Homo sapiens: one gene and its partners. The protein of the gene in region 3 purifies or fractionates together with the protein of the main gene of each other region. This does not show direct contact. Each region holds a gene or a part of one and is shown on either strand. Other genes may lie near its edges. The genes, in order: CLCN5, VPS50 and VTI1A.

What was found.
Region 1: the proteins of VTI1A (region 3) and CLCN5 purify together in Homo sapiens (affinity purification with mass spectrometry; one large-scale study listed by BioGRID and IntAct). This does not show direct contact.
Region 2: the proteins of VTI1A (region 3) and VPS50 purify together in Homo sapiens (pull-down; one study listed by IntAct). This does not show direct contact.

Annotation. Positions count from the first base shown.
Region 1 is NC_000023.11:50,090,096-50,093,751, forward strand, and holds part of CLCN5 (H(+)/Cl(-) exchange transporter 5), read left to right. Parts: intron 1-20; coding exon 21-419; intron 420-574; coding exon 575-791; intron 792-2,033; coding exon 2,034-2,124; 3' UTR 2,125-3,656. UniProt on the Homo sapiens protein: Proton-coupled chloride transporter. Functions as antiport system and exchanges chloride ions against protons. Important for normal acidification of the endosome lumen. May play an important role in renal tubular function.
Region 2 is NC_000007.14:93,235,307-93,238,962, reverse strand, and holds part of VPS50 (syndetin), read right to left. Parts: intron 1-3,656.
Region 3 is NC_000010.11:112,670,570-112,674,225, forward strand, and holds part of VTI1A (vesicle transport through interaction with t-SNAREs homolog 1A), read left to right. Parts: intron 1-3,656. UniProt on the Homo sapiens protein: V-SNARE that mediates vesicle transport pathways through interactions with t-SNAREs on the target membrane. These interactions are proposed to mediate aspects of the specificity of vesicle trafficking and to promote fusion of the lipid bilayers.

The DNA of each region.
Region 1 (3,656 bases), on a different chromosome or scaffold from region 3:
CTGTGTCTATTTCTTTGCAGGTGGGGTGACTCGGATGACTGTTTCTCTTGTTGTCATAATGTTTGAACTGACTGGTGGCTTAGAATACATCGTGCCTCTGATGGCTGCAGCCATGACAAGCAAGTGGGTGGCAGATGCTCTTGGGCGGGAGGGCATCTATGATGCCCACATCCGTCTCAATGGATACCCCTTTCTTGAAGCCAAAGAAGAGTTTGCTCATAAGACCCTGGCAATGGATGTGATGAAACCCCGGAGAAATGATCCTTTGTTGACTGTCCTTACTCAGGACAGTATGACTGTGGAAGATGTAGAGACCATAATCAGTGAAACCACTTACAGTGGCTTCCCAGTGGTGGTATCCCGGGAGTCCCAAAGACTTGTGGGCTTTGTCCTCCGAAGAGATCTCATTATTTCAATTGGTAAGGATTTCAGAAAGGGGATAGTGGAATCCACTGTGGAACTCAATAAATATGCCTGAAATGGGGGAAGACAGGGAAGGGGGGACTGGTTAGGAGCCAGAAGGATAGAGCTAGCACGTCCATCTTCAATTTGTTTTTTCCTTCTGTTTGAATAGAAAATGCTCGAAAGAAACAGGATGGGGTTGTTAGCACTTCCATCATTTATTTCACGGAGCATTCTCCTCCATTGCCACCATACACTCCACCCACTCTAAAGCTTCGGAACATCCTCGATCTCAGCCCCTTCACTGTGACTGACCTTACACCCATGGAGATCGTAGTGGATATTTTCCGAAAGCTGGGACTGCGGCAGTGCCTGGTTACACACAACGGGTAAGAAGTCTTGAGTGAAGTCAAATTGAATTGTGGGAGAAAGAGAATGCAGAGATAGAAAGAAGTAGAAAGAAGTAGAACCCAGTTTAAATGAACATTAGTAGCACTTTTAGGACTTCTTGAAGCTCTGAGATGAAAGTGGATAGGTTTTTTTAAATCATAATTAATGTAAAGGGAGTTTGGGAAAGAACATGTGTTTGAGAGATGTGAACTGCTGGTTGCATATTATAAATAACCCAGTTCCTCCCTGACAAAGGAAACACCTGTGTTTTGTGCATAGGCAGCACTGAAATTACAGTAGCATCAGGTAATAGTGTATTTGCTGGGTGTTTGTTCCCTACAATCTCCTTATTATTACTTGAGGATGAGAAAACCAAGTTTCAGTGAGGTGAGATTTATACAAAGTTCTCCAGCTAATAAATAGTAGAGAAAGGCTTTAAACACAAGTCTTCTGACTCCCAAGCCCATGGCTCTTTCCTTCCTGGGATAGTTCTTATCCAGTAAAGGGAACCCTTCTATTTTTATTGGAAAAGAAAGGAGGTTGAGGAGAGGGGTGGATTTTTTTCCCAAACATGCTACGTTAATCCAGCAATTATATAAGAATTTCACATCTGAAATTTCTAAATGGTGTAACAGATGCCTTGCAGGATTTAAATCAGTAAGGGGAGTTCCCTAACTGGTTCATTCAACATCTGCTGAATCCCTGCTCCATGTAAGAAGGTACTCCACTGGATTCCAGGGAGACACAAAAATTAATAAGACCCTTCTGTGCCCTCAAGGAGCAGACAGTGTTTTAAGGAAGGCAAGAACCTAGCAGTGGTTATAGTACAATAGCAAAGAGGACAAGTGCCACTGAGGAGGCCTGCAAAGAATGTGCATGCTGTTGCTGTGAGGAGGGCAGAGTTCCTGCTGGCTCATAGAATCAGGGAAGGTGCTCTGGAATAGGGGCGTTTGAACTGGGCTGCAGTAGATAAGATTCAGATATGTAGCGAAGAGTATTTAAACCAGAGGAAATCGCAGGGTCTGAGACCTAGAGGTAGAAACACTTGCATACATTTAGGAATCCACACATCATCCTATTTGCCTGGGGCACATGTCCTACTCCTGTGATCTCATACTGAAAGGGCAGCTAGTGATCAAAGACAAAGTTGAAAAGGACTGAGGAGGACAAGTATCACCTTTGGGAATGCTATTTTAACTACAGATTTATTTTTGTTTTTTTGTATTGTGTTTGTCTTTTAGGCGATTGCTTGGAATCATTACCAAAAAGGATGTGTTAAAGCATATAGCACAGATGGCGAACCAAGATCCTGATTCCATTCTCTTCAACTAGAATCATAGAGTTCTGGATGTAAAGCGGGAAGGACATTACAGACCATGGATATGTTGTATTAACTGGGTACCCAAAACACATTTTCCATATTTGGATGGTGAAGTCACATTAGTGTGTTGTCTCTTTCCTACAAGTTAACCAGTTGCACTACATAATCTCTGGAAATTAATTTTCTCTTTAGGAGAAATTATAGTTAGGCTTCCATGATGTTACATTAGGAAGATATCATGAAAGAATAAATAAGATTGCTATGGTTTAATTATATTTGCTTTTTAAAAGATTTTTTTAACTTAAAAAGTAGTTAGCCAATATGCAATCACTGAAAACTATGCAAGAGAAATTCCAACCGTCCTGACCTATAACCTGTAGGAAACCGACGAAAAAGTCACTCTTTTGGGATCTAACTGTTGTTACTGGAAGACGAAGTGTAAACTAAGGGGCTTTGCTTTTCAAACCAGAGAAAGGAAAGCCAGAAGGAAAAGAGTAATGGTATTTTCTAGACTGTGAAGATTCAGTTCAAATGTTATCCTTGTTCCTGTTACAATATTTAGCATTATTAGTTTGTTATGTGTGTATGTTTATGTTAATTTTAATTTCTGATTATAAGACAATGCTGCTTTGGTTAATCTCTTCTAAATGAATTTAGAGAGATTGACTTTTATAGCTTGCTTGTTGCTGGTACTCTTTTGAAGTGCACAAAGATAAGTTATAGAGCTTTCTCCTTGTCTGCAAAAACGGTAATTTTCCAGGTGGCATTTGTTAGCTGGTAGACAAGGACTTTGCCGTGAATTTGTTAGTAGCAAGGAATGATTTCTTCCAGCTTCCTTGAAATGAATAATTAGTAAACTTCTAAGCAAAGTCAATGACTAGGAGTTTCACATGTTTGTGAGGTCCTAACTAATTCTCTTACCCAGATGCCACCTCCATGAATGATGGTGCTTTAGGCTTCTGGAATATGTAAAAACAGCAAAGGGAACCAAGTCTAGACTGCATACTGGTAAACCAGGGAAGACTCAGAACTGCATATGCATCCTCATGCATTCCTTTGTAAAGACCACCAGTACTAAAATAACTGGACACTCATTGTACCTCCCAGCGATAAGTATGTGTAACAGGCCAGTGTGTTGTCCCCATGATCATGAATTAGGCTTGGGATGCTTCCAAATATATTCAAGGTGTTGGAACAGGATAGGCAGCTGTGACTCCCTCAAGAGTCCTTAGAATTCTAAATAAAATGCAGAGCCATCCTAAGACACAGGGGTATGGACAAGGCCTGGTGACACCAAAGGTGCTTGTATCCAATTGAAAAGGTGCCTGTCTCAATTTCATACCACCTTTATTGCAGTTAAAAAAAAATCACACTCTGGGGACACTTGGTGGAATTACAGAGCCACCATCATCATTCCAACCACTATTTCATTTTCTGTAGTTTTACCTGTGTGCAATTACTCCCCCTCCATTCTGTTCCACTTCTTACTCCTTAGTACCAAATCCTCTGTTTGGGATTGAGCGCTGCTCCTGGTTAATCATTC
Region 2 (3,656 bases), on a different chromosome or scaffold from region 3:
ACCACTAGTCATATCTAAAATTTTTTATTACAAAGTGCTCTGCCTCAACCGCAAGTTTTCCATTACCCCCAGAATATCTAACCTACCCACCCTTCTCTCCCCGTCTCCCTCTCTCAGGCACACTTACCACTCCAAGAAATGAGAAAGCAATACATCACTTTCAGAATTATCTCCTCTACAAAGTCTTCCTAAATCCCTATGCTCCAAAGAACACAGTATTTCTCAGTATAACCCTTGGATCATGTCCATCAACACCACCCAGGGAACTTGTTAAAAGTAAGATTCCTAGGCCCTAAAATAAACCTAATGAATAGGTTTTTCTAGATTTGGGCCAGGAATGTGCATTTTCCCAAAACAATACCTCAGTAAGACATCTTCCAAGACAATACCTCAGCCAAAGTAGTAAAGTTTTAAATTTTAAATATATCTTTCTCTTCCAAACTTTAAGTCCTAAGGAAAGGGAGAGACAAAGTCCTATTTGCCTCTGCAGCCCAGTGGCTAGCAAAGTTCCAGAAACAGAGTAAACAACAAAGAAATGAGTAAATTATTAGGTAGAAGTCATTGGTCAGGCTCCAATCTCCCACAAATTAGCGCATTGTTCCCATGGGAACATGTAATTGACTGCAAAAAAATTTCTAGGAATGCTCGCTGGAAAAAAAAAAAAGGCCTAAGGAGGTTTAATATGCCTTTCAATGAGTGAGGGAGAAAAATAGTATGTTACTAGTCTTGGGCGGTTTGTTCTTCCCTGTCTCGAATTCTCACCAACAGTCATGAGGGAATAGCATCAAAACTGGTAAAGAAGGCAAGGCTGAGTTACCAAACTACACTTCTATATACATTATATATGCACACATGAAAGTAAAACTTCCCAATTTGATTCAAAATCATGACCACCCCTAAAATATATTTTTAAAATGTAATTGCCATGTCTTTTAAACAAACATTTTTCAAAGTACACATGCTCCTCGACTTACAATTGGGTTATGTTCCAATAAACCCATCATATGAGAACATATGGAAACATACAGAAGAAAACAGACACTGAGACTGCCTGAGGGTAGAGGGTAGGAGGAGAGAGAGGATCAGGAAAATAACTATTGGGTACCAGGCTTAATACTTGGGTGACAAAATAATCTGTACAACAAACCCCTGTGACACGAGTTTACCTATAGAACAAACTTGCATAGGTACCCTTGAACTAAAAATAAAAAAAATTTTTAAACCCATTATAAGTGGAAAATACATTTAATAATCTCAATAAAACCATCATAAACTCAAAAATTCATTAAGTGAAACCATAGTAAATCGGGGACCATCTGTATAGATTTGCTTAACTAATCTAACAGAAATCCCTGAAGAAATATATCATATTTAATTTCTCTTTCCCCAGAGCTAGTCCGTAAAGAAACCAATGCCTGAAATGTAAACGTGATATATACCAATATCTAGAAAAAGTAGTCACCACACAACAATTCAATACCAATACACGGCAAATTTCTGCCAAATGTACAAAATAAAAGTAATACAAATTGAAAACCCGTGTACATGTTAGGAGGATGTAGAGTGAAGTGATTATAGCAATGGGCTCTGGAGCAGACCACTTGAGTTTGTATCCTGACTTTCTTGCTGTGGTTTTGAACAACTTATCTATCCTTTCTGTGCATTATATTCTATGATCATTCATAGGCTATTATAAGAAGTAAAACAGGCCGGGCGTGGTGGCTCACGCCTGTAATCCCAGCACTTTGGGAGGCCGAGGCGGGCGGATCACGAGGTCAGGAGATGGAGACTATCCTGGCTAACACAGTGAAACCCCGTCTCTACTAAAAATACAAAAAAAAAAAATTAGCCGGGCGTGGTGGCGGGCGTCTGTAGTCCCAGCTACTTGAGAGGCTGAGGCAGGCGAATGGCATGAACCCGGGAGGCGGAGCTTGCAGTGAGCCGAGATCGCTCCACTGCACTCCAGCCTGGGCGACAGAGTGAGACTGTCTCGAAAAAAAAAAAAAAAAAAAAAAAAAAAAAAAAGAAGTAAAAGAGGTCATGTATGTGAGAAGCCAAAAATACTGTCTCATATATCTCAAGCATTCTGTGATGATTAACCATAATTCTTAATATTTTTATTATGACAGAAATGCTTTCCTTTTATCAAAACAGAAATGAAGAATTACATAAATGTCTCAAAGCACATCTGACATTCAACTGTACTTTAGAATTACAGATTTTTAACACTTTATCAGTTTTATAAACTTCTACTAACAAATGAAGTCATTCTTATTTTATCTTCATCTCTCTAAAGCATGAAGTCATGGTTTTAACTACAGTTCTCTGCCTTTATTAACACTTTGATGCTATCATTAACCACTATTTGATTTTCTTTTGTATTTGATGTTTGTGTTGATAATTCCCCAGTTTAGACATATAGAAAATTCAGCATAAATTAACACTCGCCTCTTCATTTACCCAAATCAGATTAACACTTCAGACTACTTCAGTTATGTCTACATTAATCCTCATTTTCCATTTACGAAACCAGCAACTATGTCTTATCCATCCAAAGAAGCATCTGTGATGATTTGTGTTTCCTTCTCCTTTCGGCAAAACTCAAGAGTGTTTACACCCAGTCCCTAATTTCTCTCCCCCTATTTTCTCCTGAACCCACTCTAATCAGGCTTTCCTCCCCACAACTTCATGAAAACTGCTGTAGTTGGGGCACCAAGGACCTCCACGCTGCTCAATCCAAAAGCACATTTCTCATTCTCACTCTCACCTTACTTGACCAATCTGCAGCATTTAACACAGCTAATCACTCCTTACTCTTTTAAATTCTTTACTTGGCTTCAAGGCAGTCTTCTTGGTTGTTCTCTTCATCCCACATTCATGCAACAAATATTTATTGAGCATCTGCTATATTCCAGGTGCCATTCAGGAAGCTAAAGACTTCTTACCTCACAAGCTGCATGTTCTCATTCTGCTTTCCTAGATCCACCACTTCCCCCTGAGTTTTTAACACTGGATTCTCAAAAGCTCCAACCTTAGATTCTTTGTATATCTACACTCATTCCACTGGTGATCTTAACCAGTTTATATGCAATCTACATGTTTGTAACTCCCAGAGTTTCAGCTATACCCTGGATTCGCCCCATAAATTCAGATTCATCTGGCCAACTGCCTGCTGTATCTCTCCAGTTGAATATTTAAGAGGCTTTCAAATTAACAAGTCCAAAAACCATGTCCCTTCCCTCAATCTGTTCCTCCCTCAGTTTTATCCATCCGAGGAAATGGCAATTACATTCTTCCAATTGCTAGGGCCAAACTATTTTGAGTCATCCTTGATGCTTCTCTTTCCCTCACAGCCCAAACCCAATCTGTCAGGAAATTCTGTCACCTCTACATTTACAGCATATTCACAGTCTGACCTCTTTCAACACTTCCACCACTAGGGTGGAAGGCTTACACCCACCCTCTCACCTGGATTACCACAGTAGCCTCATCATTCACCTCCCCTGGTTTTGCTCTTTTCCGCTCTTCAATCTGTTCTTAAAACATGGGTCCAAATGGTCTGTCTGAAGTGTTATGTCCAATTATATCATTCCTCTATTTGCCATTTCACTCAGAATGAAAGCCATGACCTTGCTATTACCTATAAGGTACTACAT
Region 3 (3,656 bases):
ATTTCAACAAATAAAGCATCTTCTCATATTGTGTTTGAATAAATTTGCAAGTCATTTAGAGAGGGTGAAGCACAAACAACTTCTGCAACCTTTGACTGGGCTTTCTGTAGGGAAATCATAATAACGTGGTTGTTTCAGAAGCCTACGGAAGAAAATTACTCTGGTGAAATCTACATGGGGTTCTCTTTGTAGGCAAACTCAGTCAATCACTGACTCATCTTCTTTTGGGATGTGTCTAGAGTATGAACAGAAATAAAAATTCCCAGATGGACATCACCTTGCTACATCTGAACCAAGGGTATGCTTAAGTCCACCTGTTCATATGCATGACAATGTTTTTCACTAGGCACAGCTGGGATCTTGGTATCAGCCAGGATATTCAGATATTTTCAACCAATGCCATAACGTGGCAGGTTTTCTGGGGACCAAATGCAGTGGTTTTAGTTTCTAATTACTGCCGCGTATGATATACAATGTATTTTGGACTTGAAAAGGCACAAACATTTTGCCAACCTCTCTGCTTCATTATTTTGGTTATCTCATGGAAAAGCTCTCTCTAGAGAAGTAGAGGCAGGGTTTATGTACCAAAGCCTTTTATTGAATGCTCTGATTTTGCTTTCCCTGTTACAACCCTCCCATTCATATGGCTTTCACTTCCAGCCCTTGTGAGCTTGTGTTTCAGAAAGAAAAGCCACATTCTCTTACTCTTCTTCTTACCAAAACTGCATAGCTATATCGTGTGTCAACAAGCGTTTCTGATTTAGGAAATGTTATGTTATTGAATCTTGTACTCATCTGTCACCTTCACAAATCTATAAAAGAAATGAATGTCCTCTTTGTGAAGTGTGAGCATTTACCTGCATATAACATAAGCTTATTTTCATATGATAAATTCTGTGTGACTGAAAATAGTTAAATATTCTGTAGTATACCAAACCAAGGAGTTGCTTTATTTAAAAGAAAGATTGCAGGTTATTTTTAAAATTTTTTAAACCTTGATTGTTCTTAAATTTGTAAAGTGAACAGAAATGGCTTGGCACGGCTCATCATTTGAGCCATTTTACGTATGGTCTGTTGTGAAGACAGGTGAAACCAGTGTTCCATTGATACCAAGATCTGTGCGTATGGCCACTTGATTATCTGTAAAACTGACCAAAAGGAATTGGAGAAATCAAAATAAGTAAGCAACAAAAATTAAGTTTATAAAATCCAGCAGCCACTAAATAATCATCTACCACTCATGCTTTTTAATATTTTATTAACTTCAAATAAGATAAACATCTATTTCCTTCCTTCTTTCCTTTCTTCTCTTCTTTCTTCTGCTTATTCATTTCCTTAGTAAATATTTAATGTCTGTATGCCAGGGCCGGGGATCCTGAAATGAAACCAATTTTATCCTCACTTTCAGAGTACTTTAGTGTAGTAGAGGACGTATGCATAAAAATGTACTATGGAAATTCACAAAATTAACGGATTCTCAAAGCAGCTATTGAAGATTCCACAACTCCAGTTAGTCCTTGCTGGTCATTAAAAGGGACACCAGAAAAACAAATAACTAATAAAAAATACGAGTTAAATGGCTATAATGCCCACCTGTTTGGAAAAAAAAATAGGGAAATAGAAAATGGTATATGGAATCATTACAAACAAATTTTGAAAAGAACTAAGGTGTGCAAAAACATTGACATATAATATGTAATTTAGTGAGACAGCAACTGCTTCAACCGAAAAGAAATTGCTCTTCATGTAAGCATGCCATGTTACCAAAAGAAAGAAAACAAAGGAGAAAATTGGTTCATTCAAAATTATAATAGTAAAACTCGACATCAGAACACAGCTCTGGCTGATTTCCTGGAAAGTAATTTTTCTTCGATCCTGACATGTGATGGAGAGCCATCCAGGGACAAACTGTTCATTTCCTAACTCTGTAGACAGAGTTTAAATACAGTGGAATTCAGATAATAATGAAAATGGTCATGAAACAAGTGACCATTTATGTTGTAACTGGGTCCAATAAATGGGTCTTTTCATTGACTTTCACAAAATTTGATTATTATAATTGGCTGTCTTAAAGTGTCACAGTATCACTAGGAGACTTAAATGTCTCTCTTCATATGTGTGTATTTATGTGTGTGTCTGTGTGTGTATTTTTTCTATACCTTTGAGCAGAAAGTCTTATTCGTTCAAACTGTCGGCAATCTGTAAAAATGAAAATTAAGATTTTCAAAATTCAGTCAGAATAAAAAGAAATCATGATTCTATTTCCTTTTACCTCTGAAGAGTTAATGATTGATCACTAATTGTACATTTGTTTCTAAAAGTATATGAACAATGCCTCAGGAATGTAACAAAGTTATAGCTTAAGAGCTCCACTGACAAAAATTTACAGGATATGTTACTACTTTACCTTGGCTCCTCCGCTGCATTGTATATGCTGGCAAAGTGCTTATAAAAAAAATGGCATAAGCCAGGTGTGGTGGCTCACACCCGTAATCCCAACACTTTGGGAGACCGAGGCAGGCAGATCACTTGATGCCAGGAGTTCGAAACCAGCCTGGCCAACATGGTGAAACCTCACCTCTACTAAAAAATACAAAAAAAATTCGCCAGGTGCAGTAGCTAATAATCCCAGCTACTTGGGAAGCTGAGGCATGAAAATCACTTCAGCCTGGGAGGCGAAAGGTTGCAGCGAGCCGAGGTCACATCACTGCACTCCAGCCTGGGTGACAGAGTGAGACTCCATCTCAAAAAAAAAAAAAAAAGAAAAAGGAAAAGAAAAGAAGGAATGGCATAGATGATTAACACCCATTCTGTTTGACAATCTCAAATCAAATAATTTCCTCTCTCCCCGACACTACCTATATTTGCCCCCATTCACACACATGCGCGCGTGCGCGCGCACACACACACACACGCACTCAGATTGTTTCCTTCAGAAAGTGAATTTTGTTTATCCTTCCAGTATGAGTATGGTTAACTTCCTTATGCGTGGAGCTGCTAAGAGGTCTTTTGTAACTAATCTGTAGTATAAACAAAGCAGACAGTATTAAATGCAGTTGACCTAGCCAGGACCATTCACACAATATTATCTGATATGCATATTTTTGTTAGAGTTACTTTCGAGTTAGCCTGGGGAATCATTGCCACCTATCATTGCTATCATATTTTACATTTTAAATGTAGTCTTTGGTAGAATGACAGGTAAAACATCTGGAAAGCTTAAATGCACTGTCAGAATGATTCCTAAGAGTAAATAGACCAGGAATGCCAATGCAAGATCTGTAAGCTATAGAAATGTAATTTTTAAAATAAAAACAGGTTTATTCTTACATATGCCATGGCTAGATGTTTAAGCTTTTTTTAAAAACTCATTCTTTTTTCTCCTTCATTTTGCCCAGGAAACATTCTGTTATATTCTAATTGTTCTTACTACAATGTCTGAAAATTCAACAGTATAGAGTTTTCAAGACTTGTGAGAAAAATGTCCTTGAAAATTTGCTGTAAATTTTTAGGCACTGAAGAAAGTATCTTCTCTCATAGTACCTTGCATTTATATTTTTACTTCTCTATCTCTTTTTCTTTTCTCTGTTCTCTCATTCCTCTTTCTCAGCACATTTTACTTACTGGTGATAAACTCGGGCCCTGACCTGAAATTA